Linked DNA regions of Homo sapiens: region 2 is linked to region 1. The links come from fine-mapping of genetic effects on gene expression. A gene starts in region 1. The other region holds a variant in brackets. All regions are shown on one strand. Distances are between the middles of the regions.

Region 1 (4,392 bases):
AAGACCATTTAAATGTCATATCTGCTTGTTTTCATGTAATCTGTCAAAGCATTTTTTAGGGTGAGGATGTAACATGGGAGGAGTAAAATAATAAACTGTAAACGTGTTTATTCCACAAGAGTTTATCACACGACCCCAGATAACAAACTCTGTTTTGGAAATATTAAACCCTTTCTTTAAATCTGATTTTTTCCACTTGTAAAATGCAGAATATACCAACAAATCTTTAATAGAATAACTGAAACTTTTTTGTAAATGGGAGACATGAAAGCTATATATAATAAATATTAACTGCTTCCTTGATTATACAAATGCATAGTTTTAACTTAACAATATTAAGCTCTTAAAATATAGTAAATATGAAATACTTCAGGTTCAAGATCGAAAGAAACTTAAGTGTGATGTTATGTTTAAGACAAATAATCATGTTAACATGATAATAATGCTTAAATTTGAGGCAGACGGGCACTGTGGCTCATGCCTGTAATCCCAGCACTTTGGGAGGCCAAGGTAGGAGGGTCACTTGGGCCCATGAGTTCAAGACCAGCCTGGGCAACATGGCGAAACCCCGTCTCATTAAATAAAATAAAATTAAATAAAATCTCATTAAATAAATAATTTAGGGCAGATTTGCCATGCCATAATCAGTGTATTAGGTTTAAATGTTTTACTATCTTTTACTTGATTAAGAAAATTTATCACGTATGGTACCATTCCATAAAATTTCTCCTTAAAATTTTTAATCCCAGCACTTTAAAGTAGCAAACTTAAGTTTGCTCACATTCTTTCCATGCTGTGGTTGAAGCTAATGCTTTCAGCTCCCAGGTTGGCAGGGAAATTCCTCTCACTTCAATCAAAAACAATTCTTGGAAAAAATAACACATTCCACTATTAGCTTCAGACACCGACCTGCTGCTAACTGTAGGGTTTTTCCTAGACGCCACACCCCAGCCTTACATAAAGGAGAAAGCTTAGAGTTCTTTTAAAATAGCAATGCACTCACAATTCATTATTTTTCCCTATCACAGATGGCTGAAAATAAACAGCAGAGAATTTGGATTCAAAACTGTTGATTTAGGCAGAGAACCAGCCAACCCCTTCCGGCTCCCCAGAGCAAATGTTAAATGACTGCCCGTTCTAGTAGAAACTCTATAGTCTCTCAAATCTGATTTAAAAGCGAATATCTGTTTCCTACCTATAGAGTTTAGCAAAAAGGCAGTTCACTTTTAGTTGAAAGAGCATTTTGTAAAACAACATCTCATAAAATTACTACGCTATACTGTACCAATCTCGCTTTTGTATAATCTGCTTTCAAAGGAATGAACAGCAACAAAAAAGTCACTTGATTTAGAAATATGCATTACAAAAAACTTTCCATGAAAATACATAATGAAAACATCTAGGAAACAGGAGAGAATTCAGTAATAATCCTGAATGACTTACCAGCAGGCCACCTCCTACGATGCCAGAAAAGAACCACACGAAGCGGCTGAGGTGGTTTTCGGAGGCATACTTTGTTTCCCCATTGGGAAAGTAAAGCAAAATATTAGCCGCGATGCACAGGAGGGCGAGCCCCACCAGAGAATGTCCGATGCATCGTGCACACTTCCCATAGCACATGGTGGTCTGCTAGGTTTTCTCCCCCTTCTCTTTGTCTTCAGCTCAGTGATACCCCAAATTAGATGAAAGTGTGCCCTTCTGGTGGAGAAAGCAAACACCACTCTCAGCCCATTCCTGCTACCTCTTAAATACTGCGATTCTTAGTCACTGAGGGGATGAGGTACTTTGCTTTCATTGGTCCTAATGGCAGGCTCTGGCTGTGGTGCGAAGAGGCAGGGGGAATGTCCCGCCCTTCAGACGAAATCCTTGGGACAGGCAAAACCAGGGGCAGGATGTGAGAAACAGCCTCAGTCATAGGCAACAGGGAAAATGATTAATCTTGAACAAGGCATTGACTGTGCAACTCCTCCACAAGATAAAGAATCAACAGGAAAGCCTAACATGACTTTCCAGTAACTGCCAAGTGTCCGAGATGCAACAGCCCTGGTTGAGGCTTTGAAAGACAGTGAGCTGTGCCCCTGCTCCATGCAGCTGTCTGGACAGCTTCCAATCTGAGAGCTCTGTGTTCATTTCTACCTTTGTGCTGATTTAATTTACAACCTGGGGCAAATCTCCTGAGCTCATTTCCTTGTCTATTAAATACAAGGTGTCTGAGACGTCTCCCATGGATTTGAGAAGGCTGTTGGGAAAACTACAGAGCAAACTTCTTTACTCTGCCTACAGCAAGCTCTGCAGGATGGATTTCAGTGTTCAGCGTCCCTGGACATCTGCCTCTAAAACAAATCTGCACCACAACAGAGGTGGCATCAGTCAACACAAAGGGCTCAGGTGCTTTTTAAAAATTATTGAGTGTTGCTGTCAGGAAAAGCAATGCCAGGAAGGGCCAAGGAAGGCCTAAAGCATGGGACAAAAATAAAAAGAGGAAGAAGAGAGGGGGAGGAAGAGAATGGGAGAGAAGGAAAGAGGAAAGGAGGAAGGAAGAGAGGAAGGAAAGAAGAGAAGGAGGGAGAGAAGGAGAGAGGGAAAAAGGGAGGAAGGGAGGGAGGGAGGAAGGAAGGAAGGAAAAAAGGAAGGAAGGATGGGGGGAGGGAAGGAAGGAGGGAGAGGGAGAAAAAAATAAGACAAAGGGACTTGGCAAGCAGAGTGGAGAAACAAGGTTCAGAGAAACAGAACTGGCTAGGAGTGTCAGAACCCACACAGAGGTAAACAGATGGTTTACCCAGCCAGATCCTGAGACCAGCTTCCACAGGCTCCCCACACAGGGCAGAGAAAGGGTGTTAGACTAACTTTCTAGGTGGTTACCTTGCAGAAGGAGGGGCTGGGCACTGAATAAATTTATGCCTTGAACAGCAGATTGCACCAGCCAGTGGATGGTGGTGGGAGGTGGACAGGGTGGCCGGGTGGGGCCAGGCCTGGAGGGCCTTGTCACCAGGACAAGATAGAGAGTACAGAAAATAGAAAAGGACCAAGGTAGGGAGGCATTAGCTTAGAAGAAGAAGGTGAATGAGGTTCACGAATCTAGAGTCTGAAGGATTTGGCCCGGAACTAGAGGGCGGGACACATACCAAATTTGAGGAGACCAGCTGTGGTTAGTGATGTGGCATGGGACCGGAGGAGGGCCCAAGAAGTGTGGCCTCAGCACACTAACAGGGGTGAAGCCAGAATCCAGGATGGCCTGAGGAAATAAATCAGTGGAGTTGGGAAGCGTGGAACCACCCACCTGCTCAGGCGGAGGCAGGCAAATCCTCATAAGAGTGTCATTGGGTCACCACTATGTGTCCAACAACAGGGAACGTGTGTTTGGCCCGATGGCTTAGAGACAGGATTCCACTGGTGACAGAGCCTATGGGTGAATGACGGCATCCTTTGTTGAAGCATAATCATTGCAACCCTCCTGTCTGCTGATCTATCCCACCTGGGGCCAAAATGGGGGAAAGTGATGCTTAAACTACTGATATGGTTAGGCTTTGTGTCCCCACCCAAATCTCATCTTGAATTGTAATCCCCATAATCCTCACGTGTCAAGTGAGAGACTGGGGGGAGGGAACTGAATCATGGCAGCAGTTTCCCCCATGCTGTTCTTGTGATAGTGAGTGAGTTCTCATGAGATCTGACAGTTTTATACGGAGCTCTTCCCCCTTCTCTTGATGATTGTCTTTCCTGTTGCCTTGTAAAGAAGGTGTCTTGCGGCCAGGCGCAGTGGCTCACGCCTGTAATCCCAGCACTTTGGGAGGCCGAGGCGGGTGGATCACAAGGTCAGGAGATCGAGACCATCCTGGCCAACATGGTGAAACCCTGTCTCTACTAAAAATGCAAAAATTAGCTGGGCGTGGTGGCGAGCACCTGTAATCCCAGCTACTGGGGAGGCTGAGGCAGGAGAATGGTGTGAACCCGGCAGGCGGAGTTTGCAGTGAGCCGAGATAGCACCACTACACTCCAGCCTGGGTGACAGAGCGAGACTCAGTTTCAAAAAAAGAACAAAACAAAAAGAAGGTGTCTTGCTTCTCCTTCACCTTCCTCTATAATGGAAAGTTTCCCAAGGCTTCCCCAACCATGCAGAACTGTGAGTCAATTAAACTTCTTTCCTTTATACTGGGAAGTGAGGAGCCCCTCTGCCCGGCCAGCCACCCCGTCCAGGAGGGAGGTGGGGGGTCAGCCCCCCGCCCGGCCAGCCGCCCCGTCTCGGAGGGAGGTGGGGGGACAGCCCCCCGCCCGACCAGCCGCCCCGTGCGGAGGGAGGTGGGGGAGCAGCCCCCCGCCCCGCAGCGCCCTGCCGGGAGTGAGGGGGCTCTCCCGGCCGCCCTACTGGGAAGTGAGGGGCCCTCTGCCCGG
Region 2 (4,392 bases), 9.0 kb after region 1:
TCCTCCCTGGGAAAAGTAGCAAGTTCTCTCCTGCTGGCCTCCTTCCACAGATCACAGCTGCCTTTGGGGAGAATGACAAAAACTGTTCAGGGTTCCTGGGTAATACGTATCCAGTTTCTGTGCATTCAGGGGAAGAGGAGCGTGGAGCAGAAGGAGAGTGGGCACATGCAAGTCACTCTGATGCCGTCATTTAACTTTACAGCTCCGTTGTGCAAAGCTGTTTACAGGTGAGGAAACTGAAGCTCATCTGGGTTAAGCATGCAGGCCAAAGTCACAAGGCTGGCGAGTAATTAGGCCTGGATTCCTCCTACGCAAGTCTCCCTGACTCACATACCCATGCTCTTTCCTTCACACACTGGGCTGATTTTACTACAATGTTGATCAGATTCGGGGACTGTTTCTTTGGCACTTCTAAATAACACAATTTTGAGACATTAATCACTTGGATTCTACTTTAATTCGATGAATGATTTCAAGGTTAACCTGATGTCTCAAAATTAAAGCTACAGCTCCTGTTCTACAAACTTGGTTTTACTGTAGCAAAATAGAACTATCAACAAACAAGAGATGTGTGCAATGAAAAGTTTTTAAAAGAATTGTCTAGATTCAGTAGAGGAGAGAAATAATAGGGCCTATTTTCATTTCCTTTACCCTGGTCTAACTTGTAAAAGGATTTCCCTACCTGTGTCACTGGTCATGATTGCAAGTTGTCCAGGTTCTTGGCGTTTTGAACAAAGAATTGGACAAAACGCCCAGCAAAGCAAAGAATGGAGCAACAAAAGAACAAAAGCAGGGATTTATTGAAAATGAAAGTACACTCCACAGTGTGGAAGTGGGCCCGAGCACCAGCTCAAGGGCCCAAATACAGAATCTTCTTGGGTCCAAATACCCCTGGAAGTTTCTCATTGGCCACTTCATGCTTACCTCATGTAAATGAAGTGGTAGCCCGCAATCAGTCTGATTGCTTGCAGAAAGCAGCCAACCAGAGGATGAAGTGAAGTTACAAAGGTCACACTCCTGTGCAAACATCTGATTGGTTGCAAAAAGCAACCAATCAGAGGGTAGGGTGAAGTTACAAAGTTATACTTCTATGCAAACTGAAGACTCCGTCCACAATCAGTCTGATCAGAGCCACAGTCAGACCATTCAGAGTCTGGAGTGAAGTTACTAAATTGCAAACAAAGTCTCTACCAGCAATAAGTCTGATTTGTCGCTTACAGACAACTTCCCAACTGCCACGCAGAAAAGGTCAAAGGGAGTAGCCTCTGGTCCTTCTGTTACTGAGGCATGGAAAGTTAGGGTTTTCCTTTCAATTTAGTTCTAGGAAGTCAGTGTGAAAAGCCTTAGGTTCCCTGCCTCCAGTCTCTATTCTCCTGCCTCACATGGCCTTTTGACCTTATATAAAATATGCTTGCTTTTTTGCAGAAAGGTTGGGGTGAAACTCTCCACTCCTGCTTTCATACCATTTGAAGTTCAGACCAGTGAGATTTCCATCAGTTGGGAGTTGAAGATGCCACAAGGACAAGAACTGAGGATGGTTTGCTCAGAGCTGATTTTTAGACACCATTTTCCAGGGATCCCTGGTGACAGAGGAGCATTTTTTTTGTGGTTGAGTTCTGAATTAAAAAGTGTCGTACTATATATTTGTTTGGTCATTTCTATGACTTCAGCACTCTCAAAGACTTGGACAGAAGCATAAATAAGAGGCAGTGTGAGCATTCTCCAAGTAATCATTCCAAGTTGGTGAGTTCATACTCCACCTAGACCTCATGGCCTCGCCACTCTCAGTCAAACTGGTTTTTGTGGTTGTCAAAGTCCAACATGGCAAATTTCCCACTGATACTAAGTGAGTTGAAAACTCAAGTTACAGTTGATTTTGCCCTAGGGAATTTTACCAAGAACAGCTTTACAGCAGTGGAGAGTTGAAACGTGTGTGTGTGTGTGTGTGTGTGAGAGAGAGAGAGAGAGAGAGACAGAACGAGTGAGCATATGTGTTAGAAAGACAGACACCCAAAAAAATGTCAGATTTGGTTTGGCTACACTTCTTGCTCTTCTGGCCCAGGTGGACAGTTGACCTTCCTTCCCCCTACCTGTTCATAGTCTCTGACTGGCTTTGATGCGGGAGAACTGAAGTCCAAATAAGCATGACCCTAGCCTCTAATACAAACACCGTGCTTCAGATTTCCTCCCCAGAAAGGGAGTTGAGATTCTAACTA[G/C]CTGAGTCATCTAGTGACAACTCCCTTCATTGTGTTATGTTACAAAAACATAGTTGTTCACTATGGGAACCCGGATGGGAAATCCATTCCACTTTCAGGTTAAACCGTTAGCCTGGCCAAATGACTGTAAGATTCTACAAGGTCCTGATTTTTCAATAATGCCTTCACCATGATTTGGAAATTACTTTTTCAGACTTAGAAGGTGAGGAAAACTTGAGCAAGAATTGCAAAGGAACTGAAAAACCAATTTGAAACATAAACATTATCTGGAATGTTTATAATGCATGTATTCCTTGTCCAATAGAAACCAAATAAGCTTCTCTGATGAGACCCTTCAGAATAGCTGTCCCTAAGAGGAACTAAATCAGGAATTGGGGATAGCTGGCAAGAAGACATCAAAGAAAGCTCAGGATGTGGAATCTCTACATTGCCCTGGATCTTCTTTTGCAGGTGCAGGTTCCTAGAGTTCTTATTCACCATCCTGAGGACACCAGGGGAATAAAAAGGATTGCAGGGCCTCGTCCTTCTTGACCTTCTCCCCCTCTGATTTCCTGACTGTCTTCTCAGTGGTCCTGATGTCTTCTATAATGACTCGATGTTTTTAGGAATCAGAGTCCTGGACACAGAGACACATCCAGGTTTGGCACCAGGCTTGTGTGAGTTCTTTTCTATTTTTTTAATGAAGAAGAAGGAAGAACATAAACAAGTGTAAGTGGAAAGCATTTTTTTTCCTTCTAGATCACATATGTGACATTTTACAGGGATTTCTTCTAGGTTGTCAATACATTAAAGACAACTAAAAAGATTATTACAGGGAATTCTTAAAGTCTTAAAGGAAGATAGTCTCACAGGAGGATGAGATCTCTGACAAATCAATACGTTAATTATTGTCTGAAAAGGACGTGGAGCAAGATTTCCCCCTCATTTTCATTCTTCAGTTAGAGCTTCTGATCAACATAAGGATCATTCACCCAACAAATATTTACTGAGTAATCCCTGAATGTCAGGCATGAGTCTAAGAGCGTCACACTCATATCTTACTACGTTCCACAGCAACCTTCTGAGGTAGGTGCTATCGTAAACACTATCACACAGGGTATAAAACTGTAAGAGCTTAAGTGCCTTTCCCAAGGCTTCACAGATTGTCCAGCGTGGCCAGAATTTTAATTCAGGCAGTCTAGATCCAGAGCCTCTTAATCACTGTACGGTGTTGCCTCCAACCTGGAGGAACTGGTCTGAAGAGAACAAGTATTACCACGAGTGTTAATACCATTATAGGTAAAATACACGTAGTGCCTAGATATTGGTTTCTAAATATGGTTCTCCAATGAAAGGAATGAAGGCACTTTGGACTTCGGAGAAGTGGTGGCTGATATCAGGGCTGAAACAACAATATGAGATGATTATGGAATATTTTGTGCTGGTGTTCTGTGTTCTTTCATGAGATGATCATTCAGGTGAGGTCACAAGAGGACATATAAGGAGGCTCAGGAAAACACAGTTTACTGTACTCACAGATCCTAAAGACAAGAGGCACAGGACACCACAAAGGGCCTTGGGGGAAAGCTCTGGGGTGGCCAGGAGGCAGAGGGGCAGGAGTGAGAGGAGATCCAGGCCCATGGTCATGTGAAAAGCAGGGCAAGATGAACTGTTTAGGTTTGAATACTTTCCATAGGCTCTAAGCCATAGAGGTGTCCCCTAGTTGCCTGGTACCTGGCCTTGGAATGACTAAAGCAGAGAAGGGTTACCTCTTGTGTGTATAGCCAAATAGAAGAGATAAGGATCTGGTCTGGTTAGTTTACATATTAGAGACATGCTCCTGGCTGAGAGGGGTGTTGGTCTCTGTCCCCAGCTCTACTGGGAAAGGATTCACTTTGAAGCTTACTCAGGTTGTTGGCAGAATTTATTTCCTAGTATTTGTAGGACTCATGATTTTTCGAAGTCAGCAGGAGAGCAAGACTCTAGAGTGAGTCTACCAGCAAGACAGATCCTTACATAATGTAACACAATCACAGGAGTGACATCCCATCACCTTTGCCTTATCTTATTGATTAGAAGCAAGTCACAGGTCCCACCCACACTCAAGAGGAGGGGATTATATGAGGATGTGAATACTAGGAGTCAGGGATTTGGCGGGGACATGATAAAGTTGGCCATGGTGATGCTGTGTTCTCAT

Evidence for each region. PIP is the estimated chance that this variant, and not a neighbour inherited with it, causes the effect.
Region 2: its variant is the best candidate, but not a certain one, in a credible set for the expression of TM4SF1-AS1 in subcutaneous fat (GTEx, PIP 0.67).

The regions. Positions count from the first base shown.
Region 1 is chr3:149,375,928-149,380,319 of GRCh38, forward strand. It overlaps TM4SF1-AS1 (TM4SF1 antisense RNA 1), which reads left to right and starts at 1,851. Exons shown (of 2, transcript NR_109810.1): 1 at 1,851-2,388. TM4SF1 (transmembrane 4 L six family member 1) reads right to left here and starts at 1,722. Exons shown (of 5, transcript NM_014220.3): 1 at 1,444-1,722. The coding sequence starts at 1,620.
Region 2 is chr3:149,384,943-149,389,334 of GRCh38, forward strand. It overlaps TM4SF1-AS1 (TM4SF1 antisense RNA 1), which reads left to right. Exons shown (of 2, transcript NR_109810.1): 2 at 1,430-1,641. Among named protein-coding and RNA genes, the nearest start is that of TM4SF1-AS1, 9.4 kb to the left of the region's middle. RefSeq lists an enhancer at 1,826-3,025. The variant G/C (reference allele first, on the strand shown) is at 2,217.